Linked DNA regions of Homo sapiens: all the other regions are linked to region 1. The links come from fine-mapping of genetic effects on plasma protein levels. A gene starts in region 1. Each other region holds a variant in brackets. All regions are shown on one strand. Distances are from middle to middle.

Region 1 (8,174 bases):
GTAACATTTTGATACCTGTATTTCCATATAATTGGGTTTTACTTTTGTAATATTATGTACTTATTTCATACATTTAAAAACATTATGCCAGCCAGGTGTGGTGGCTCATGCCTATAATCCCAACATTTTAGGAGGCCGACATGGGCAGATCACCTGAGGTCAGGAGTTCGATACCACCTGGCCAACATGGTGAGCCCCTGTGTCTACTAAAAATACAAAAATTAGCTGGGCATAGTGGCACACACCTATAATCCCAGCCACTCGGGAGGCTGAGGCAGGAAAATCACTTGAATCTGGGAGGCGGAGGTTGCAGTGAGCCAAGATCAAGCCACCGCACTCCAGCCTGGGTGAAAGAGCAAGACTCCGTTTCAAAAAAAACAAAAAACAAAAAACAAAAAAAAACCTGATGCCGAGAATGGTACGTAGGTTTCACTGATGCCCGTGGGGTCTACCGCACAGACAAGGAAAGATCTCTGCACTAGAATGTGGAGCCACTGGCCAGGTGCGGTGGCTCACGCCTGTAATACCAGCACTTGGGGAGGCTGAAGTGGGTGGGTCACGAGGTCAGGAGTTTGAGACCAGCCTGGCCAACATAATGAAACCCCATCCCTATTAAAAATACAAAAAAATTAGCCAGGCATGGTAGTGGGCACCTGTAATCCCAGCTACTCGGGAGGCTGAGGCAGGAGAACCACTTGAACCCGGGAGGCGGAGGTTGCAGTGAGCCGAGATCGCGCCATTGCACTCCAGTGTGAGACTCCCTCTCAAAAAAAAAAAAAAAATGAAATGTGGAGCCACTTCTAGACAGGGTCACACCGCTAAGTTCCCAGTAGGAGAGGCCAGCCAAGGACCAGCCACCTCCTCCCCTCAGCCTCCAGCGTGGGGCCAGGCACCAGACAGATGCTCAGGCAGCCCACTGGGCACCAGACCGTAAGCGCCAGGCTGGAGAGGGTTGCCACGGCGGAACAGGACCTCGAGGCAACTGGCCAGCAACCTCCACCTTGCACCTCTGTCTCCTGGGGCGGATAGGGGTGCCAAGCATACACAGAAACCAAGAGACAGCTGTGTGGAGTCAGGACCTGGGGAAGAGCCAGGGAAGGCACAGGGATACTCAGTGGCCAGCCTGCCTCCCATAGGCCCACCCGTCCCTAGCCCCCAGTCGGCCTGAGTCTTCTGCTCCTGGAGCACAAGGTTCACATTGTGGGGTTGGGCTCTTGACCCAGAATGTGAATTCTGCAGAAGACTCTCCAGAAGAATGCTGACTCCAGTGTAACCTACGGCTCAACAGGGGTACACGTCCAGGGCAGTTCACCTTTGCCTCTTTTTGGCTCTGCAACAGCTCCTGGGAGCCACTCAGTTAAAGAATTAAGGCTATTTCTTCATCCTACCCCTCGGAATTCTGTCCCCATTCCCCACCATGACTCCTTCCCTCAATCACTGGGAGTCTCCCAGGAAAGCAGGATGGGATGCTGGACTAATTTAGAGTAAATCCCCTTTTCATTCATTTCACCAAGCACCAATCACAGGGCAGCCACAGACTGGCCCTGCGGATACAAAAGAACCCCAGGGGTTCTAAGGATGCTAGGAGAGGCATGAAGGGAAGCAACTCCTAACCCACAATGGGCAGACGTGTAAAAGTGTACTGCTGGGGAGAAAACTGAGTGTTCTGGAGTTCTGAGCACTAAACCTTTACCCGAGGGCTGGGAAAGGCTTCTGGGAAAGGGAACCATCTGAGCTGGGCCTGCAAATACGTGAAGAATCATATAGAGGACAAGAACATTCCAGGGCTAGTTGGGTGAGTGTGCAAGGGAAGAAGGGAATGGAAAAAGCCATGTGGGAGAGCAGATGCAGACAGGTCTGGCTGGAGCTGACAGATTTCAAATTATCAATCCTGTCTGTGGAAAGCTCAAAGCATTGCTTAAGGAGACAGCAGCAGTGCCACCAAGTGCCATGGGATAGGGACCCCTCTCCATGAGGGGATGGGAGGTGACCTCAGCGCACTCTGTCTCAACCTGAAGCCTACACCCAGGCTAGCAAGAGAAAGTAGGATCAACCCTGAAACACCCCACATCTTAAAAAGAGAGATGCATTCAGAGTAGATTCTTGAGTTTCAAATTAAATCTGAGATGCTAGTTTAGGGCTTCCCCTACTCCCCAAATCATATGGGGCACACCCCAGTCACCTGGAACTCTCATGGACCCCCTCTGTCCCAGGCTCTGGTAGGATTCTACAGACAACCAAACCCAACTCCCAGTGAGCCCACGGCAATGGCCGTGACTTGCTGGCATCATGCCTCGTTATGCCTGACTCTATGATCTGTTCTGTGAGTGTGGCTAGGAGCTGAGCTTTGCGGGAAACACACTTAATCATTCTGCTCTAAAGGAAGCCACTGGGGTCAACCTCAGGCTCAAAGTACATGGGAAAGCCCCATACCAGACTGGGATGGCTCTTCCCAAGGAGACTGCCAGGCTCTGGAAGCTCCCACACCCTCTCAATAGCAGACCTCTCTAAGACCTGCCACTCTGTTTTGCCTCCCTCACCCACCCTGTGTGGTGGCCCAGAGAATCGGTTCTGCTAGAAAAGCTCTCATTCTGGGGCCAGGCGTGGTGGCTCACACCTGTAATCCTAGCACTTTGGGAGGCGGAGGCGGGTGGATCACCTGAGGTCAGGAGTTCGAGACCAGTCTGGCCAACATGGTGAAACCCCATCTCCACTAAAAATACAAAAAATTAGCTGAGTGTGGTGGCACACGCCTGTAATTCCAGCTACTCAGGAGGCTGAGGCAGAAGACTCGCTTGAACCTGGGAGGTGGAGGTTGCAGTGAGCCATCATGCCATTGCACTCCAGACTGGGCAACAAGAGCAAAACTACGTCTCAAAAAAAAAAAAAGAAAGAGAAAAAGAAAAGCTCTCATTCCAGGATCCAGTCAGTTCCAGACTTGCTCCCGTCCAGACATCAGCTTGGTTCCTTCAGGAGAGCAGCAGGTCTCAGGCCAGCTTGGAATCCTGAACCCAAATGCAACCCCTGGCACTCCCTGTGAGCACCGAGCCAGCCTAACCAGAGAGACAGCACACCCACAGCTGGGCACCAGCCTGCTCAGTCTACCCTTTAAAAGGGTCACAGGCTGGATTCAAGGATCTGACCCTGAGTTCCTTGACACCCATCTGAGACTTTGTCTGCACTGTTCTCTACCTGAAGGGAGTCTCATTGCTGAAGGACTAGCACAAAAGTCACCCAGGAAGTGAAGCCTTCCCACACTTTATCTGAGCTCAGAGTCCATGCCCCTCCTTTGCAAATGGCAAGACCACACGGCAAGCAGATGGATGACAGAGTCCCATGTGTCCATCTGTTCCAGTGGCCTGTGAGTACCTTAAGGGAAGACCCACTGCTATTCCTGGAATATAGCAGGTGCCCACAAAATATTTGATTTGTATGCTCTAAGCTCCCTCAACCTTGGGGGCCAACTTAGAACCCACTTTCTGTTGCCATTTTCCCTGTATCTTAAAAAGAGAGATGCATTCAGTCCACTAGATCCCCCATTCTGACCTCAGTTTCCAACCTGGCATCTGGAATACTGCTCCCTCCTACACCATGCCCCCTCTACCCCACTGTACCACCAGACCCACACCTTCTCCCATTGAACTCACACATAGCTCAGGGGAGCCTAATCTTTAAAAAACAGATCAAGCAGCTTGTAACAAAACCCTTCCAGCCCATCAGGGCAAAGTCTGAAGCCGCCACCTGGAACACCACACCTTCCAACCAGCCCCAGGCATGCACCCCTGTCCCCAGAACACTCTGAACTCTCAACCTTTGTCCCTTACCCTGGGCTCAGATGCTCCCTATCTGGGAGATTCCGCCCAACGCTCTGGTGAACCCATCTGTCCACCCTTCCTCCCACTACGACCACTCAGCTTTCTTTCATTTAGCCCAGTATGGAGCACCTACTGTGTGCAAGGCACCGGGCTACTGAGAAGCAGGTAACATACCTGCCCTTGCACTCTAAATGCAGAGAAGATAAAGAACAAGTACAAACAATGCTCTATATAGTTTATCAGGTGATGATGAGGGCACAAAAAGTGGGATAGATGGTTAGAGAAGGATTCCCTGAGGGGGTGACATTTGGCCCCTGAAAGAAATGGGGAAGTGCCCTGCTGGGAAAAGGGAATTCCAAGTCCGTCTCGAATACCGCCTCCTCCGGGAAGCGCCCGGGTCCCTGGGGTCCTCGCAACGCCGCCCTCCTACCCGGGGGTCTTGGCAGCGAACATGCGTGTCGACCCCAGCCCCCACCGCAGCCGCACACGGTGGGGCCGCCAGACGCGGGCAGGTGGGGCCGGAGCCAGCCAGGAGGGTGGAGAGGAGCTGCGGCCCCCGCGCTGACCCTGACTCGGAGCGTGCAGCTCGCCGACCGGCGCTGGGACTCCGGGCCAACGGGAAGAGGCGCCTACCCGCGGCATTCAGCGACCCCGGCTGACGCTCTCACCCGCGGTCCGGCCGGGACACCCATGCCCCTCTCCACGCCAGCGGGAAAGAGCGAGGGAGGCGCAGCACTCACCCGGTGGCCGCCGCCATGTTCGCCCGGCACCGGCGTCACGTGAAGTGCGGCGTCAGCTGAGCCCCTCCGGGTGCCAATGCATGGGGCGGGGTAAGGGCGGGGCAGGGGGCGGGGCATGGAGTCCTTGACCCACCTCCTCCAGAGCCAAATTCCACGGGACGGGAAGGGGCGGTACCTGGGGAAGGGCGGAGCCCCGATGGGGCGGGGCTCCCGGAGATTGGGGGCCCAAGAGCTCGGCCAGGATAAATGAGCGGGCTGCCGGCTGCAGACAGTAGGTCGGGTTAGCGGGCAGCATCTGCAGCCTTTTCGTGGTGGGAGGGAGGTCCTGAAGCAGAGGACATCTTGATTCTGGTTCAGTCCCCGATCTGGCGTACCAGCCCACCCGGGAGAAGAACACATAGGAATAAAGAAACCACGTGGGAGGAGAGGAGGGAGACTGACCCAGGCTAGGGTCGGGGCAGAGGTGGCGATTTTTGTTTAAGAAGGGAAAGGGCTTGAGCAAAGGCCGTGGGGCAACTGGAGGACTCTAAATGTGCAGCGTCCAGGAGAATGTGCGCGAGAGAGGGGCAGCCTAAGGGAAGCAAGGGCCAGACCCTGCGGGGCCTCCACTGTGGGGCCTATGAGTTAAGTCTGGTAGGATCTTTTCTAGGTTTCCTGGGCTGCAGAATGGAGAAGCTGGAGGAAGGGAAGCCAGGGAGGAGGGCAGGCGAGAAGTGGGCACAGCCGAGAAGGGTTTAGGAGGGAGAGTCTGCCAGAAGGCTTACTCCTCTGCCCCACTGGGCACTGGTACTGGGTGCAGAGTCCTGCAGAGAAGGTGTAGGGACCCTGCAGCAGACGCTGCCCTCCCTACTGCCAACAGAGTCAGGGCATTACAAGCACGGCCCAAATGCGTTGCACATGTGAGCTCATAGAAACCTCACCACAGCCCTATGAGGTCGAGACTATCTTTAAGTCTATTATACAGATGAGGAAACTGAGGCCAGAGAGTGCTCACACAGAGGCTGAGCTCATGAAGCCATACCCTGAGGAGTGACCTCACTGCCCCTGTGAAGGAAGGGGGCCCCACACTGTTGGGGGAGGGCGTCCCTGGCGCCAAGGGTGTACAGATGTGTGTGGTGTACAGATGTGTGTGGACAGGTGGATGGGTGGCCCAGGATAGGCGTGTGGGGCTCCTGACCCCACCCTGCAGCTGTCCCACAGCTGGAAGTGGCTTCTGATCAAAGGTTGTGGGTTGGGGGATGCTTCTTGTTTCTTTATCGAAACAAGGATGTGGGTCACCATGGCCAGGCTGGTGGGAGCCAGGGGCTATGACTGGAGAAGCAGCTTCTGTTTGTCCCCATGAAGCAGGGAGGAGAATAGGCCCCTTAAATAGGAGCAAGGGAGCCAGCCATAAGCAGGGTAGTGAAGGGCACGTGGCACAGTTACCTGGAAGCCCAGTACCATCCCTGCTGTCCTCATCTGTCAGGAGAGAGCTAATGGGGCCACCTCACAGGGCTGCTAGAGGGTTTTACACTCAAACCTGCAGGCACAGCCAGAGACCAAAGCTGCCAGGAGGAATGTGGCCCCTCCAGACAGCCCCTCCCACCTCCCGGTCCCAGATAAGGAAAACGAGAGCTAATGGAAGAGGGGGGGCCTCATCCCTTCTACCCCTTCCCACAACACATGGACAATTTGCAGGGGTCCCTGACCTCCAGGCAAGGTCCAAGAGGAGCTCTCTCCACCCTCTTGCCAGTTTCCAGGAAGAAGAACAGAGGTAAGGATTCACACCCCACTGCCTGGCCTAGGGGCCCCTGAGAACTTCTAACACCCCTAGTTAAGCAGTAGGTCCGCCTTCAGCTTAAGAAACTCAACTCCCTAGTAAGTGGCGCTTTAAAAAATACATAATAACAAAGGGTGAGCAGAATGAGCTTTCCATGCGCCTTCAAGGAAGGAAAACATACCCCCCAGCTCATTCATTGCACCTGCCTCCCACCATTTCTTTTGACATAAAATATGTCAAAATTAAGCCAGCTGCCAGCTCTGAGTGCTTACTAATATGAAAAAGAAGTCAATATCCCAAACACAAAATAATGGAAGGAAGGCACCCACCAACTGAGTGGAGCTCCCTTGTTTGTGGACAGTAATATGGAGGCACTGCCCATGACCCCTGCCCACCCAGGTCCCCTGCCCTCTCCCCTCCCCATCAGGGGCTCCGGCAGGGCTGCCCCTCACCCCTCACCCCTCCCCATCAGAGGCTGTGGCAGGGGCTCCAGAAGCCGCCCAGAATATGGGAGAAGACCATTTAGTTACTTATGCAGGGCAGACCCAGGACGTTGCTGGAGCCAGGAGGCAATTGGGGGAAGATTGATTTTAGAGAGTCGAAGTGGGAGTGTGTAAATCAGCCAAGGCAGCGCGCCAGGCAGCACTCTCATGCGGCATTGCCTCCGAGGTCACAGGCCCTTGTGGCCGAAACAGTCTCCTCTCGTCAAGCCCTGCAGGTGGCTGGTAGATGTCTGCACTCGGTCAGCCTGGTAGCCCGGTAGCCAGCATAGCATTATTCTCCAGAAGGGCCCCCCCAACTCCCGTCAGGCCTTGCAAAAGAAGCTTCACCCTGGGAAGACACCTCTTGTGTCCCGGGACACTGTGTCCAGCCAGGTTTCCCTCCTCCACCCATTCCCCACAATCTAGCCCCCACTCTTGCAACTCCGTGGACGCTGCTGACAGCTGGCTGCCTGGAGACGGCAGGCCCAGATGTGGCGGCCTGCTAGGCTCTGACTCATGAGCCACCCTTGGGCCATGAAGGGGAGGTCCCCGGGAAGAGCCCTGTCCATCTTCTGCTGTGGATTGAGGGCACTGGTCTACCAGAGGCTCTGTGGGACTGCACTGGAGGTAGCCTGGATGCTGGTTCTGCCCTGCACCACCCAGTTGTTGCCCACAGTGCCACTCCAGGACTGGCCATGCTGTGAGGGCCAGGGATCCAGACCCTGCCCTTGCCTAGAGGATCTTTGGTCTGGGGACAGAGGTAGAGGAGCCCTCCACACTGTCCCTGGGGAGTCCACCATCTGGGAGGGCCTCAGAACGGGGCTTCGAGGGTTCTGCTTTTGGCTAATGGGGAGATCCTGGGGGATTCTGAGCTGCAAGCTGCCGATCCAAACCCCTCTCTCCAGCAGGAGCTCAGGAGGATTAGCAGAGAGAACTGAAAAGAGCCAATAAGAGCCAATAAAGCCACTGCACGGGGCCGCCAGCCTCAGATGGTCAAAGCCCTACACAAGATGGCATTTGGGTGTTTTGCGATTGTTTGCTTTTGCTGAGAATAGAAGACTGGATGCAGAAAGCCAGCACCAAATAAACAGAAGAGGAAGAATAGAGGGGACTGTGGGTGTGAGATAGGGGCAGGGTGGCATATGGCAACCCAGTGTCTTCCCAAGTGGGAAAGCAAGGAGCGTGATGGGTGTGGAATGCCCAGGAGACCGTCTCTCTATCCTGGTTCTGGCAGATCCCAGCCTTGGGCCTTTGCAGGGCCTGCAGAGGTAGCCACAGCTCTCCCACTCCAAAGGCCTGTGTGGCCTGCTCCTTCCTCCAGGCCTACACCCCAGCTGTCACCACCATCCATCAACCCCCCTCCTCACAGGAGCCCCCA
Region 2 (8,174 bases), 110 kb before region 1:
TGCCACCACTGGCCCACCCAGACCCTCCCTGGGCCCCATGGCAGGGACCCGCCAGCCCAGAGGCAGAAGGCCTCCAAGATGGGTCGGCCAGTGACGGAAGGCTTGGGAACAGTTTTCTGGGGGAAATGCTGCAATGTTTATATGAGAGCCACTTTGGACTTGGTTTGCAGTTTCATTTGAATCTCCTGAGTAGTGGCACGGCTCTTAGCTGTTCAATCCAACAGTTTACACGCGCTCATATTCGGGGCTGCAGAAGCACTGCAGACTCCGATGTGCAGCTGCCCTGGTCAGTGTCCCAGGCCAGGCTGGGGGATTGCTGAGCAGCAGGAAGCACTTGCTTCTCCTCAGTGTGAGACCGAAAGGGAGGCGTATGGGTCACTCTTCCCTTCATCTGCCCCAGTGGGCGGCCCCTGCAGACACGGTGGCGAGCTGTGGTCTCCAGGGTGCATGGGCCGGCTGCCTGCTCCCAGCCAGGCCTTCCGTGGAGTGCCAAGCTCCAAGCGTGGCCAGCAGGGACAAAGGCCACCACTCGGAGTCCCTGAGGCTCCCCGTGCCATGGCCTAACCCACCAAGGGGACCTCTCTCCAGTGCGTTCCTGGGCATCTCTGCCCCCTTTTCGTGTGACGGCCACTCCTCCAGGGCCTCGGCAGACAGGAAAGCTGCCCATGCCGCCAGCCCATGACAGCAGCAGCTTCTGGTCCCCAGAGCCAGCAATCCCTGGTGCACGCGGTGGGTGACGGGAGCAGCTGCGTCCTGTGGGCCTCCTGGGTGTCTGGAGGGAACTGGCATTGCCATTTTATGCATGACATGGACAGAGGCACGGCACCAGTGAGGGGCCCCGGGTCCCAGAAGAGCACTGTGGGGTGCCTCGTCCAGAGGTGGGTGAGACACAAGGACAGCTGCCAGGAAAGCACAGTGGGGTGAGGCCCGGGCGTCAGGGCAGTGGCCTTGGCAGGCGGGAGGGAGAGTCACACGCGCAGCACATGCTGTATTTTGCTTTTTTTGGTGACCAGTGTCTCATGATGTCTGGGAGCACCCAGGATGTCTGGACAAGTGCTGTTCAAACTGTGGGTCATGACATCAGCTGAGGAGGGTGCAGCCACGAAGCACAAACAAGAGACAAACCGAAAACGCGTGGGCAGGTGTCTGCTCATAACCAGGCCTGTCCATGTGTATGAGGACGGGTGAGAATGGAGAGCACGCTCCTAACTGGGATGGGATGGGACGGCCATGCCTGTGGGTCTGGACCCTCCTGAGGGCGTTCTGTGGCCCCAAGAGCATGTCTTTAAGACCGCAGAGTGCTCAGGGCAGGGCTGGCTGGTGACAACAAGTCTCCCTCGGAGGAAACAGCAAGGTGGTGGGGGAGAGCTGGGCTGGGACAGGCAGCAGAGAGCAGGCCTGGGGGCAACGCTCTACCCTGGAGCTCACCAAAGCATTGGGCCCCAGGTGGAGTGGGGCAAGGGGGTCCCCAGGAGCTTGTCACCCATGGGGTCCGCAGCGCGATGGTGGCAGACAGACTCAGGCTGAGTAGACAGCAGGAGTAGGCTGGCCGCATCCCAGGCTGCAGGGCCCATGTGAGGCCAAGGTGGCTGCTGAGGTCCTGGGTGAGCGGGCACCCCATGGCCTGCAGGGTCGAGGTCTCGCCATTATCTAGCCAGGGAAGGAGGGGAAGAGGGCACTGGTGGCTGCTGAGTGTGAGGGCTGGGACAGGTCTCTCCTCCTAGCCAGGCTGGCCACCCACCCCCCATGCCCAGGAGCAACACAAAAGACCAGGCCCAGCAGGGGTGAGGCCTGGCCCATCGTCCTGAGACAACACTGCCCTCTTCTGGCCAGTTCTGGAAGGACAGGCTTGCTGCCCACCAGCTGCATCCCGACTGGGACAACCAAGGCCTGGGGCATCCTGGGACACGTGCTCTAGAAACTCTGCGAGGGGCCACAGTAGATTAAGGCCCCCCTCCAACCCCCACCACCTGATCGGGAAGTGAGGGAGGCAGGAGGAGTGTCCCAGCTGCTTTCCCAACCAGAGCCCTCCACCTCTGCCCTGTGGGGTGAGCCTCTCCAGGACCTGGGGCGGCCTCAGGCCCGGAGTGCTGCAAGGGATGGTCCCTCTCTGGGCGCACTGCTTCCCAGAATCGTGGACCATGCGCCCCCTGCCCTAGCTGCGAAGCTTGCTGGCCTGCAGTGGCTCTGGTGCCCACAGCCCAGGCTGTTTGTGGAAGGAGGGGGCAGCACATGGGGGCTCAGAAGACGACCAGGAGAAGCAGGGGGATGAGTCCTGGCCACCTCTGTGCTCACACAAACCTGTTCGGGGCTGGAGTGAGTGGGGAGGGGTCTTCTGGGGCCTCCCACTTAGGAATGGCCTCCAGTGATCTCAGGCACCTCAATCTGTGTGAACATGTTGAAAGTGTTAATTAGCAAGTGTGCTGCGCTTTTGTAACCCTGTTCTTGAAGGTCTGCCTGAGGGGTTTAAAAAGGAAAACAAAAAAAGCAGCGAATGGCCCCTCTGGTACAGTGACTTGGAGATGGGGTTCATGGCGAACCCCAGGATCACAGCGGGAAAAGACTCTGAGAACAACAGCAAAACCCCCGGAGGCTTGACGGCTACAGGCCCCACATGGGGCCGCTTGGCTCTGAACCAGGCTGAGGGTGTATGCAGCCACCACAAAGTCCCGTCCCTCACCCCTGCGTGCATGCGAGTGGGTGTGGTGGCATCACACCCAGAGAAGCGGGAAGGGGCCCGGGGGTGGCTGGCTGGGGGTGAGGGACGGCCCTCAGGAAGTCTGTCTCAGTCCTTGGCTGACAAGCCTGACCTGAAGCAGGAACCAGGGTGTCTGGTTCATAGGCCCTCTTGGACCATGACTGTGGCCAACAGTGGACTCAGCCTAGCTCCAGGGAAGCTGCTGGAAGGGTAAGGACGGAGCAGTAGGAGGGGGGCCTAGCCAGCCCCAAACCCCGCTTGATGTACGCATCATGGAGGACACTTTTGGGTCGAAGACACGGAACAGGACAACCAGGGGACGGGAGCTGTCTGAGAATAAACCAGGCCTGGCCTGAGCTCTGCCTGTGGCTCCCACCTCCAGCCTGTGCTGCAGAACCAGCTGCTGGAAGTGGGCATCAGGGCCTGGCCTGCCCAGCTCGGTGAGGACACCGGGCCTGCTGCTCTTGCCCGAAGAGGGCCCACGCTGTGCCAGGTGGCCACTGCGAGAGAGGGAGGCAGGGGCTTACACTGTGATCATTGCAACGCAGCACAGCCTCGGTCAGTTCCCTGTGTGTGTATCCATGTGTGTGCGTGTTGGGGGAGTGCTCATATCTGGGACTGTGGAGAGAGGGATGGAAAAGGCTGGCCTCCTCTTAGTACCCCCCACCCTTCTGCAGTACAGCTGTATAATCTGGCTGCCCTGGACCAGCTCTGATTCCCCACAAAATCCCATTCCTAGAAGCTAAAATATCTCTGGGGTGTCTTCCCCCAGTCAAAGGACTAAAACCCAGAGCAGGCCATTGCAGCAGGCGCACTGCTCTGGGAGGCGCTCGGCTTCGGGGGAATTCTACGCTGGGCTCATGCTTTAGTTTCATACCTTAGGATGAAGCATCGTGGCTTTCATGTTGGGATAACAGACTGATTTATTATTTACCGAACGCAGTAGGCGCTCGGCAGATCAATTTCAATACAACAATGGACTATAAATGCCACCAGCAATCTGGCAGTAGCAGTAATCAACAAAACATGTTGTTCTAAATGCTGCATAATAAATTGACTACAATAAACTCATAATTACTCTACTGGCTACATTTCAAAGTTAGCACTAGAAAAATCAAATCACCAATTTGGACTTGGCATTAACATCCTCGGATCACTCCTGCCTCTACAGCTGCAGCTGGGAGATGCAGGTGCCATGTGCTGTCCCGGAGGGCCGAGGCCACAGCATCTGGGATTATGCCAGGACCCTCTCCGGGGCAGATAAAGAGGGTCATAAAGGAGCAGTCACTTCTTCTGGGGTGTGCTGAGCCCACAGAGGAGAAAAGCTCATGGCCACGTGGCTCTGGCACAGGGCTCTCCAGCCACCCAGAAGTGCCCCCTGGACTGTGGGGACCCACTGATGTGGCCTCTGCCGTGAGACTGGGTTCCCATGTCCTGTCCTCCAGGCCCAGCCAGAATGCGCTACAGGGTTAAAGAGCTTTAGAAAAGGTTTCAGGGCTGGGCACCGTGGCTCACATCTGTAATCCCAGCACTTTTGGGAGGCCGAGGCAAGAGGATCACTTAAGTCCAGGAATTCCAGACCAGCCTGGGCAACATGGTGAGACCCTGTCTTTTTAATATTAAAAATAAAAAAATTAGCTGGGCATGGTGGCTTGTACCTGTAGTCTCAGCTACTCGGGAGGCTGAGGTGGGAGGATCTCTTAAGCCTAGGAGTTTGAGGCTGCAGTGAGCTATGATTGTGCCACTGCACTCTAGCCTGGGAGACAGAGCAAGACCGTCTCTTAAAAAGTTTCAGGACACCAGGTGGTGTCTGGAGCCACTGGTGGGTCCACGGTGTGGGGGCAGGGCTGCCACCCCCTCTCCTGCTCTAGTCCCCTGCTGAGCCAAGTCTGAGTTTGCCAATTCTTTCCCCAAGTGCCTCTGGCCTCACACCTGGGCCTGGTGCCCTCCTTGTGTCTGAGTTCCTTGGCCCACACATGGGGTGAGGTGCCTACATCGCAGGATCAGGGCGAGGAGTGGGTGAGAAAATCCACAGAGACCCAGAAGAAGGGCCCAGTCACCTTGTGGCCCCAGGCATGTAGGAGGAAAGCTGAGCTCCGCTCTGACCCTCCCAGCCCCGAGCACGGTGGCTACGCAGGGGGGACTGGGGACTCGCCCACCATTTGTGGGGCTCACTGTGGTGCCAGAGTGAACCAGGATCCGTGGAGCCAGTGCTGTCGGGTAGGCCAGGGAGTCCACTAAGGCCCAGCGCGCAGTGGGTGGCGGTTCCACTGGCCTGCCTCCGCTTGCACCCTCAACCTGCCGTGTTCCTAACACAGCCCTACTGTGGCGGCATATGCTGGCCCCACCCAAGGTCTGAGCTGAGCTCCTGCCAGCATGGCCTGAGCTGGAACAGCTCATCAGCTATGGACCTGGGTGAGCGGGGAGCCCGGGCAGTCTCAGTAGGCCATGTGCCCAAGGGCAGGGAGGACCCCGAGACTGAGTGTGTTCCTGCAAATACTCGGCCCTGACAGCTCAACGCTCGGCAGCTCTCTGGGCAGCTGGTTGTCTGTCCATAGGTCTGGGCATGTGTGTTCCTGTCCTTCAGTGGGCATGGCTGGGGACTCTGGGGGGTGGGCTCCCACGACTACCTGCTGTAGGGTGAGGCGGGGTCCAGGCCGGTGAGCAGCCATCATGGGAACTCCCGCTGGAGGAGCTGGCACATTGGGGTGGCTCCTCGATGGGAAGGCGGAGGCAGCCCAGCTGGGCGCCACGCAGGCCTCAGAGGACATGCCATGCTGCTGGGGGGCAGAGGGCTCTGCAGGAGGCTTGTTCGGGTGCATCTGCCATAGAAGAAAGGGCACCAAAGAACTGGGAGGGACAAGGCACATCCTCTGCTAGTCAGTGACCACAGTGAAATGTCTGGAGGCCAAGACAGGGCCTGCGTGGCTGTGGCTGAGCCCCAGGGCTCCAGCACTGGGGTAGCTCTCAGGAGCTCTGCACTGCCTGGGCTGGCCCTGGCTGACATCTGACGTGCAGGGCACAGGCAAAGAACGCGGAGGGACTGAGCAGAGGCCAGGCTGCAAGTACTCACACACCTCCTCCCTGCCCCGGGGCAGCGGCCCAGCTGCTCTGCCCTGCACACCGAGGGGCTGTGGGTAGGACTGCAAGTCCTCCAATGAGAGAAAAGACTACCCGAGGGGCGGAGGCCGCAGGGCCTGCCCACATCTCCTTGTCGTGGCTTCTATGAAGAACTGTGAGCACGGCACATCGTGCTCAGGAAAGCCCTGCACGCAGCCACGGGTCAGCACTGCTGACTTGCTGAACGCAGGGCCGCAGAGGCCACGGGCTCCTGCAGCAGGAGGATGGCAGGTTTCAGAGCGTGGGAGGCTCCCTGCGGTCTTCCCAGCTCCAGACCAAGAGGCCTGCCCTCCTGGCACCAAGACAGAAAGATGCGAGCGTGGTGCCCCCTGAACGGAGAGGACAGCCTGGACAGAGGCTGGGGATGGTTCAGGCCCCCTCAGAGAGCCCACAATCCCATGGCCCACAGGAAACCATCGGGGGCCCCTCTCCTGCACCCTCTCTCTCAGTGCTCCCTGGGGGGTGCAGGCTTTTGGCCCTGGAGAAGGCACCACGCAGGCCGATAGCCTTGGCAGAGAAGTCTGGGCCAAGAAGCCCAGGGACTTGCTGTGGTCAGCCCTCTCAGGACAGGGACCCAGAGGCTTCTGGGCCATCTTGAAGTTGAGTCCAACCTTGGCCTGGCTGTTCACACACAGAGCCAGGGCCGCTGGCCCTACTTACCACATATCCCCATTCTGGATCGTTCGGTCGTTGGGAGCTCCGGCGTGTCCGTAGTGTAGCACGGCTGAGTTCTCACCACTGCAAAGAGCCGGGGGAGGGTGATCAAAGCCCATTCTTCTGCAGCAGGCTCTGAAGGAGGGGGTGGATGCTCGATCCCCTGCCCATGAGCAGCACTGTCCCCACCTCCAGCACAGGCCCAGGCGTGGCTGGACCAGGTCCACAGCCAGAGGTAAGGCCGGGGGACATGGTGGCCCTGTCACCCCGCAGTCACATGGCTGGCAACCAGCCTCAGTCTGCAGGCAGAGCCTCCTGGCTGAAGGCGTCGTTAGGCGGCTGCCCTCTGGGCTGGGATGTGGGCATCATGTGGAACACATGTAAAACTTAGCAATGGGCCGGGTGTGGTGGCTCACGCCTGTCATGCCAGCACTTTGGGAGGCCAAGAAAGGCAGATCACTTGAGCCCACAAGTTCGAGACCAGCCTGGGCAACATGGCGAAACCCTACCTCTACAGAAAATGCAAAAAAAATTAGCTGGGTTAGGTGGCTCACAGCTGTAATCCCAGTTACTCAGGAGGCTGAGCTAGGAGGATCACCTGAGCCTGGGAAGTGGAGACTGCAATGAGCTATGATCATGCCACCGCACTCCAGCCTGGGCAAAAGAGGGAGACCCTGTCTTTAAATTAAAAAAAGAGCAAAAAAGGGGAACAGCAGTTCCTGGGCCTGGAGAAGGGCCCTACGGAACCCCTCCTTTCCTGGTGGCCAAAGGGGAGAGGGCCTCTATGGAAAGGGCCCCGGCTGTCCTGGAGCTGCCCTGGCGTCCTGACCAGGCTGGAGAGAGAGGAAACCAAGAGGATCCTCGCTCCTCTGCCTGAGAAGGCTTCCCTAATGAGCGATGCCTTTAAGAAAAAAAGGACTTTTAAGTCTGTCCAAAGGGGGGAAGGAAACCCCCACCTGGGTGTAATATTTATGGCCCTGCTCAGGAGTCTTGGGAATCATAAAAGTAGAAATAATGGTTTTCTCTCCATCCACCAGAGAAGAACATTTCCAAGGACTGAGATTTCACATGTATTATTCATGTGCCGGGGACGTGC[G/A]CATTGGCAGAGCTGCCTGGCTCCATCCTGGCCGGGCAGGGGCCAGACCCGAGGGGCAGAGAGCAGGGAGACTGGCTGGGAGAGCGCAGGAGACGAGGGGGCCACGCCCACAGCCAGGACGCATGTGGGGGCAGACACACCCCAAGGGACACATGCCGCTGTGCATGGCCCACACAGCATGGCAATGATCCCATATCACTGTCATTTCTACCATGTGTGTGCCTCCAAGCACACCCAGCCAGGTGTTGATGGCACACACCCAAGCGCACACACCCACACAGAGCCCTGCCCCTCGGCACCATGTGCCACGAGCAGGCACACCAACAGTGACATGCACACCCACATACAGCAGCACTGGTCCCCACGCAGCCACACCCACATAGACACACCACCACCACTTTCTGCACTGACCCTTCCACACTCCACCCCTGCTGCACACAGAAGCTGCCCAGCCTGAGCTCACAGCCCGGTCCCCACATGCTGTGTGTGTGCCCGTGTGGAGGAGTGGCCTTCCTGTGCTTAGCTGCTGTGCTGACCAGCTGGGGACAGGAGGGAGGGGACGCCAAGCAGCCCCTCTGCAGTGGGCAGGCCATGCTCCCTCCTTCA
Region 3 (8,174 bases), 32 kb before region 1:
CAATCCTAAATATTAACTTGATATCCAAGTTAACAGTAACCAGAAAACCACGGTCCTCAAACCACAGATTGGTATTTTGCTGTAATCGTCAAGTTTTAATAATGTCCCTCTACTTCCTGGGTTTTAAAATTCACATCTTCGGATATTAATATTCCTGCATTAACAACCCCCAAATTCAGAATTTCATCTTTAACTGCTTGCTTAAATGGAATCAATTCGTTACCAATTGTCTTCAAATATGCAGGGTGATCTAAGTAAATGCCGAAAGATAAGAAATACACTTAGCCTGAATAAGTGTATTTCTTACACTGATGTAAGAAATGTAAAATACTGACCATATACAATGGCAGGAAACGGAGCCCCTGTCACTCGCTGCCCCGGCCCAGGGCTCCTGGGTACAGCTTCTGTCTGTCTGGGAGGCGACTGCCTTGTGCCAAGAAGGCACCCTCGTTAAGGCATGGAAACTTGATGGACAGGCATCCCTCAGCTCAGGCCACCCAGCCCCTGCCAACAATCCCCCAACAGACCATCTCTCCTTCATGGTCAGTCTCCTGCTCTCAGGAAAACCTGCCCTAACGTCTACCTCCTTAGATGTTTTCAGAGATCTACCATGTCTGACTTTGCTCCCAGCCTTCAGGAGCCAAGTGTTCCAGGGAGCCTATCTTGCCATCCGCAGGAAGAAGTCTCAAGTCTCTTGCTGCAGGGTTCCCCTCCCCATCTCAGCCCCCACTAGCCCCCAAACCAACCCCCCATCATGCCCCCGCCAGGACCTGGCAATGAGCACCCGACCCCATGCCCACACCCACCCCTCCTGCCAGAGCCCGCAGCAAAGCCTGCTCTTCCCAAATCTTCCTTGGGACTGCTCCAATCAAGCCACACACGGAACTGCTGCCTGGGCCGGACCCCAAACTCACAAGCCCCTACAGACCATCCCGGCCTACACCCTTCACGCTACTGTCATCACACCGAGCCACATCACTGGGTGAGCCCAGGGGCCTCAGTCCACAGGGTCTCTCTGGCCGTGTGCATGCCCACCACCCTCAGCCCACCTCTGCCCTGTCCCCTCTGCTCCTTGTCCTCTGCTGTCCCCACACCTCGAGACCCCACACACTCTTACTGCAGGCAGCAGGCGGCCTGGCCCTGATCTGGGGAGGTGGAGGGAGGTCTGAGACCAAGGCTGAGCCCAAATGGGACAGACCCCAGGCCAGGCACCCCGAGTAGCCACACCTGGAGGGGTCCTGGCCCAACCATCCAGCTGGACCAGGGTCCCAAGGGTATAGGCTGGGTGGACAGGTGGGGACCACTGTCTACCACAAGCTCCTCTTCCCTGCAGGCCAGGGGATAAGGGGAGCTGGGGGGGCCCATCAGGTCAAACCAAGAGGCCAAACCTGAACTTCTGTTAGAGGAGGAGGTCAATCGAAGCCCAAGGTGCAAGGTGCTGCAGAGACATTTAAAAGGGTCAAAAAGGACAATGCCGGGAACAAGCAGCTTCATCAGAGCAGTGAGAGGCAACTGGGGCGGAAGCAGCTGCGTATTGGAGAGGAGGACGACAGCAAGATTCATCTTGCTTGGGAAACAGGCTATTAATATCCCAGCTAGCAGCTGGAGGTGCACCCGGCAGGCAGGGGAATGCGGTTGCTGAGCGGCAGCGGCTCTTGGGGACGTGGTCTCTGCCCAGCCCGGCACAAAAGTGCTGGCAGCCTGGGTGAGTGGAAGGCAGGGGGATGAGCTGCACCTGGACCCCAGGAATGCAGACAAGACTGTCCACAGGGAAGCGGCTGGGAGCAGCTGGAGGCAAAGGCTGGGGCCCCATGTCAAGGCCCACGGCATGCAGGGTAGGGGGCACCAGCCAGAGCTCCTGCCTCAGTGAAACAGCCCTGGTGGCAGTGAGGTGGAAGGCCCCGAGGGGAGAGACATGGGTGGATGGCCCCCTGCAGGGGACAAGGAAGGGAGGGAGGAGAACAAGCAGGCCAGAGATGGCCACGAGGGTTCTCACCCGCTGCGCATTGCAACAGCCAAGTCAGAGACTCGGCCAGCAGCCCAAGGCGTAGGTGCGGAAACTGACGCACCAGCACCCGGGGTGGGGGGCAGTGTCTCAGCCCAGCCCCCAGCTGAGGGGCCGGGTGAGCACCCCCCAGTCAGCCCCAGCCTGGCCTGGATCAGAGATTGGAGAGGTACCAGCCCGGTGCCTGGGGAGATGGTGCAAAAGTAAGGCAGTCCCTGGCTCTCCAAAAAGTGTCCCAGTGGTGACAGGGTGGGGTGGGGAGTTTGCAGAGCACAGGCTCCTCTGGGCTCTTGGCAGAGGCCACAGGGACTGGGGGGCAACAGGTGACAGAGACTGGGATGAGAGGTCACACCTAGGAATCCTCCTGGGGGGTAGAACGAGACCTTTGCTTCCTGACACTCACTGACAGTGATGAGGGCCCTGGGGAAGCCCAGGGCCCCACCTGCCTTCCTCGGGGAACCTCAAGGAGCAGCTGGCAGAGCTCTGCTTCAGAGGCCACATCTTGAGCTCCTGGCTGGGAACCACACCCACCACACAGCTGCCAGACGTGGTCCAGGGGGGCTCAGCATTCTCTCTAGAGGAGGAGCAAGCAAAGCTCTCACCGCTGAGAAGGCCCTCGACTCACTGACATCTGGGAAACTGGGAATTGGTGATCCTGGAGCCCACCTGGCCCACCACGCAGATGGGGAGACTGAGGCACAGAGGAGCAATGGGATTTGCTGGGGTTTGCATGCGGGCAACTGTCACTGAGCACCAGCTCTGTGCCAGGCTCCAGGTGAGCATGATCTCCTCCAGTGCCCACCACAAGCCCAGGCAGCACCAGGTTACACGTGGAGGAGCTGAGGGTCCCCCTGCTGCAGAGACCCAAACAGAGGCCATAGAGAGGTTCCATGGCATGGTCGAGGAAAGGTGTGCAGGACACTGGAGACCCAGCACCAGGTAGTGCTGGGGGGATTCAGGGAGTCCCGGGACTGGGACAGGCAGCAGCTGGCTGTGCCCGTAGCCCCTCTGAGGGCCTGGGGGCCTGGGGAGAGAGAGCAGCTCCATGGCCAGCATTTCAACAAGCTGGGCTAATTGCTGCCAGGCGTGGGAGGCGGGGCCGCTTTGGGGAAACTCCCAGGAGGACACGAAGATCTGTGCAGTGAAAAAGCAAACCTACTACCCGCCCCTCCACCCGCCCCACTGCTCTTAGCA[T/C]AGGGGGAGGTGGGAGGTGATACATATTCATGAGCTCATAATCCCTCATCACCCCTACATCACACACAGAGATTCCAGCAGCTTGGGCTCATACATAATTATAAGGCGGTTCCTCCATCACTGCCTTGGTCCACCAGAGGACAACAGAAGACATGGGGGCTGTAGGGGATGCATGATAGGGGAGGGGCTGGGGATCCAGGTCCCAAAGTTGGGGCTGGGAGCTGCCCACTGTCCACGTGCAGCAGCCTCGAGCGCAGGGGCCTTGTCTGCTATGGCATCAGCCAGCAATGCAGGCCACAGACCCCCAGGGCCAGTCACCAGCCAGTCCAGGGACCCAAGCACATCCAGTGGGCAGGGCTCTCCCGCCCTCTCCAGGCTCTCCCGGGGGCTGTGGGTGAGGGGTGACAAGCAGGGGAGGGGCGTCTTTCCCTGTGCCCAAGGTCTGTCCTCCTGCCTGGAGAGAAAAGGGGAACCGCTTCCCAAGCAGGGTTTGGAGGCTCAGCCTGGCGCTTGGTTAAGAGTGAGAAGAGGTTAAAGGGATCCTGCCTGGGATTAGGACAGCAGGGGACACAGGGGAGCTGCTGAGAGCCGGGTTGGAAGGGGTTAATGGCTGGGACTAAGAGAGGGGGCTTGGGACAGGCACGGTGTCTCACATCTGTAATCCCAGCAGTGTGGGAAGCTGAGGTGGGTGGATGACCTGAGGTCACGAGTTCGAGACAAGCCTGGCCAACATGGCAAAACCCCATCTCTACTGAAAATACAAAAATTAGCCGGGTGTAGTGGCGGGTGCCTGTAATCCCAGCTACTCAGGAGGCTGAGGCAGGAGAATCACTTGAATCCGGGAGATGGAGGTTGCAGTGAGCCAAGATCGGGCCATTGCACTCCAGCCTGGGTGACAGAGCAAGACTCCATCTCAAAAAAAATAAAAAAATAAAAGAAAGGGGGTGGTGGCTTGATGCACAGACCACAGGGGCTCACAGCAGATGTTTAGAGGGAAAACAACCCACCTGTGCCTGCCCCTGCCCTTGCCCCTGCCCCTGCCCTGGCCAGGGCTGCCTGAGCACTTTCCTTATGGAGCAAACAGACACGGGGCACCTTTCCTTCAAGAAAAATCAAGGTGATTTTTGGCAAATTATGCTTCTAAACATTTCCTCAAAATGCCCAAACTCCTTAAAAAGAAGTTTGCATAGTTCATGTCTTATTTGTAGACCGGGAAAGACCTGCTAGTGAAGGTGGGAGTGGGGGATGGTGGGGAAAGAGTCCCTGGGGGCCCAGGACTCACTTGCTGATGCCGTCAAAGGAGGCCTCCCTGCAGACACTGCCGCTGTCCGTGTTGACGCCACGCTGGGGAGAGAGAACACAGACATGACACACGGGGCCGCATGGCGCCCCCACAGCCTGCACCCCTGAGGCCTCCAGCTAGGCTCAGGACAGGTAAGAACAGGATCCCCTCCTGCCTTCCCCCAACAGATGAGCCACCCAGCCAGGTAGCTCCAGGCCCGGCCCCAACACAAGGACAGACCTCTTTGCTACCACTTGCCAAGTGGAGGAAGTGGGGGCCCCCCAAACTCTGCAGCATCCCAGCTGCACAGCAAGGCCTTCTCCATGGAGGTCAGAGCACTCTGCTGAAACCAGCCAGGCTGCCCAGGCACAGGCGAGGACCCGGGACCACTCCCAATATAAATCTGCTCTCCCCAGCCTGGTCCATCTTCCCTCTCCTGCACACACTCCCCACTAACTGTATAACATCCGAAAGAGTCCTGTCGAACCCAGCCCTTCTGGGGAGGTGTGCAGGACCTGACTGTGGCAGGACTGCTGTGAAGCAGGGAGACATCCCTCTCTTAACTCCAAGGAGACTCCAAATGGGACTTGGACAGGAATGGAGACAAAACAAGGGACTTGGAGAAAAATGGGCCCTCTCCAGAAAGGCAAGGCATTTTATTTCATTTATTTTACTTATTTTTTTTTGAGACAGTGTCTTGCTCTGTCACCCAGGCTGGAGTGTGGTGGCACCATCTCGGCTCACCTCAGCCTCCACCTCCCAAGTTCAAGTGATTCTCCTGCTTCAGCCTCTCGAGTAGCTGGGATTACAGGTGCGCACCACCATGCCCAGCTAATTTTATATTTTTAGTAGAGACATGGTTTTGCCACGTTGGCCAGGCTTGTCTCGAACTCTTGACCTCAAGTGATCCGCGTACCTCGGCCTTCCAAAGTGCTGGGATTACAGGCATGAGCCACTATGCCCAGCCTGGGCAAGGCATTTTAAATCACCATTTCTTTACCCAGAACTTCAGCTTGATGTCTAATTGTATATCTAAATTGAACACATTGGATCATCTATGACCATAATCATCTCACATAAGTTTCCCTTATAGCCATCAAGACAGTAAAGCAAAAAAAAGGGGCCAAGTGCTAAAGGAAATAACTATTTTGGTAAAAATCAATTAAGAAAAGAGAAAGGCTGGGCACGGTGGCTCACGCCTGTAATCCCAGCACTTTGGGAGGCCGAGGTGGGCAGATCACCTGAGGTTGGGAGTTTGAGACTGATCAACATGGCGAAACCCCGTCTCTAACAAAAAACACAATATTAGCTGGGTGTGGTGGTGCATGCCTGTAATCCCAGCTACTCAGGAGGCTGAGGCAGGAGAATTGCTTGAACCCGGGAGGTGGAGGCTGCGGTGAGCCAAGATCGCTCCACTGCACTCTAGCCGGGCAACAAGAGCAAAACTCCATGTTTGAAATGTTTGTTCTTCAGTGCCATAAAGAAATAGCACTTGAACATAAATTTAATTTATTTAGTAAGGCCATTTTCACTTCCTGCAGAAAGGGTACACTCTCCAGCAGTTTTGCCACGAGAGTTCACCAAACAAAGGAGACAGGGTCGTTTATAACCTGGCGTGTCCACCCTACTGCTGTGTCCGGTTTCCACTGCCTGGAACGGGACCCCACATTCTGTATTTGTCCCGATTGGCTAGCAACTTAGAACTTTTTAAAAGAGGCAAAGGTAGAGGGGGAGAAAGGAAGGAGGAAGTAACTTGTGGAATGCTGAGAAAGGTAAAAACACTTTTAAATAAGGAAGAGGAACAGGCTATGACCTTATGTTTGCTTGGACCAGTATAAGCACATCAGGGCAAATATTTAGGTTAAATTGTGGGAGCTAAAAACATAAAGTATATTGATTTCTTTATTACAGCTAGCAGATATTTAAGAATGTTAGCACAGGTCTTTGAATAAATTTTGCTTCTAAGAGAAGTTACTGTTTATTTCTAATTAGACGGGGAGGAAAGTCTTTGAAGAGAAACCTCTACTTTACTTTTTATATTCCATTTCAAAAAAAAAAAAAAAAAAAGACAAGAGGGAAGGGTCACTTTGGGGGGAAGGCTTGTGGACATGCCTCTTATATGAAACTCCCAAGCTCAAAGAAGTGTAAGAAAGCACACTTCTCTGAGAAATTCCAGAGAATTCTTTGGGGGCACACCACAGCTCAAGTGCCCCCAAAACCCTGCCGGCGTACCCAGAGCCCACCTCGCACCCCCCACCCTAGCCCAGGCCCTCGGTCAGTCACTGCGCCCCACACCCCTGCTACCTTGAGGGCAGACGCCCGGTGGTGTGGTTTTCAGACCCCTTTAACAGGGGAGACAGAGGGTGGGAATAAACTTTCTTTTTTCCTTTTTAAATTTTTTATTTTTAGTTTTCATGGGTAGATATTAGGTGTATACATTTATGGGGTACCTGAAATATTCTGATACAGGTATGCAATGTGGAATAATCACATCAGGATACATGAGCTATCCATCACCTCAAGCATTTATCCTTTCTGTTACAATCCAATTGCACTCTTCTGGTTATTTTTAAATGTACAATAAATTATTGTTGACTGTAGTCACCCTGTTGTGCTATCAAATACCAGATCTGATTTGTTCTACCTAGCTATATTTTGGTACCCATTAAACTGACTTTCTACATCCACAAATTCCAGGAGCTCAGCCTGACACAAATACATCTTCTAGCCAGGTTTAACCTTAGGAGTGGGTGTGGCGCCAGGCCCACATCCTCACGACAGGACACAGCAGGTCCCAGGGAGACTCAAGGATGGGGTCCCATAAACAGCTATTCAGACTGAGCAGGTATCGCTACTTATCACTGATGACCATTCCTCTTGGTTTATTTTTTTCTTTTTTTGAGACAGGGTCCTGTCTGTGGCCCAGACTGGAGCACAGTGGCGCGATCATACCTCACTGCAGCCTCAAACTCCTGGGCTCAAGCACGCCTCCCACCTCAGCCTCCCAAGTAGCTGGGACCACAAGCACATGCCACCAGGCCTGGCTAACTTTTTAATTTGTTGTAAAGACAGGGTCTTGCCATGTTGCCCAGGCTGGCCTGGAACTCCTGGCTCCAAGCGATCCTCCCACCTTGCCTCTCAAGGCACTTGGATAACAGGCGTGAGCCCCTGGACCCAACCCCTCTCCGTTTTTTAATCCTCCCCTATGGGCCCGACCTCTGCAGGAGAGGTGGCCCCCATAAAAACCCTCCCCAGAGCCAAGCACTGCCCCACCCCTGGACACCAGCCACTTACCAAAGTGAGGAGGACAGAGGGCTTCTGTGACGTCAGGACGCTGGCAATCTAGAAGGTCGGAAAGAAAAACCCACTTTAGAGGCACCACTAAGCCTAATGAAGATGACATGCCACCATTCCTTCATAATGACAGTGCACATTTATCAAGCAGATCATTAGAACAGGCGACGTGGGCGCTGCCCTCACCCTGCAGGTGAAGAAACCCAGCTTCCCCTGGTTGAAGGACTTCTGAAAGCCACACAGCCATCGAGGGGCAGAGAGGATAAACCTACACCTGGCTCGCTTCCCACCGCACCGCCCTGCTTCCAGGCACCACACAGATCCCTGGCTCCAAGCAGCCAGCCCTACCCACCCTCCAAGGCCAGCCCCTCTGCCCATCTGCAAAGTCCCTGCTCAAAG

The links. PIP is the chance, under the fine-mapping model, that this variant and not a neighbour inherited with it causes the effect. Protein levels are from antibody-based Olink assays in UK Biobank. Linkage for the fine-mapping came from a reference panel and not from the study's own genotypes, which makes the PIPs less certain.
Region 2: its variant is fine-mapped to the plasma level of the PEPD protein (UK Biobank, PIP above 0.99).
Region 3: its variant is fine-mapped to the plasma level of the PEPD protein (UK Biobank, PIP above 0.99).

Annotation. Positions count from the first base shown.
Region 1 is chr19:33,517,189-33,525,362 of GRCh38, forward strand. It overlaps PEPD (peptidase D), which reads right to left and starts at 4,603. Exons shown (of 15, transcript NM_000285.4): 1 at 4,556-4,603. The coding sequence starts at 4,572. It overlaps LOC105372370 (a long non-coding RNA gene), which reads left to right and starts at 4,746. Exons shown (of 3, transcript XR_935918.3): 1 at 4,746-4,826; 2 at 6,233-6,308. RefSeq lists enhancers at 3,904-4,867, 4,868-5,830 and a silencer at 4,613-4,812.
Region 2 is chr19:33,405,194-33,413,367 of GRCh38, forward strand. It overlaps PEPD (peptidase D), which reads right to left. Exons shown (of 15, transcript NM_000285.4): 11 at 6,479-6,556. It overlaps LOC124904692 (a long non-coding RNA gene), which reads left to right. Exons shown (of 2, transcript XR_007067229.1): 2 at 1-3,772. Among named protein-coding and RNA genes, the nearest start is that of CEBPG, 36 kb to the left of the region's middle. RefSeq lists an enhancer at 1,507-2,064. The variant G/A (reference allele first, on the strand shown) is at 7,569.
Region 3 is chr19:33,485,515-33,493,688 of GRCh38, forward strand. It overlaps PEPD (peptidase D), which reads right to left. Exons shown (of 15, transcript NM_000285.4): 5 at 7,776-7,823; 6 at 4,482-4,543. Among named protein-coding and RNA genes, the nearest start is that of PEPD, 32 kb to the right of the region's middle. RefSeq lists enhancers at 578-1,438, 1,439-2,298, 2,299-3,158. The variant T/C (reference allele first, on the strand shown) is at 3,200.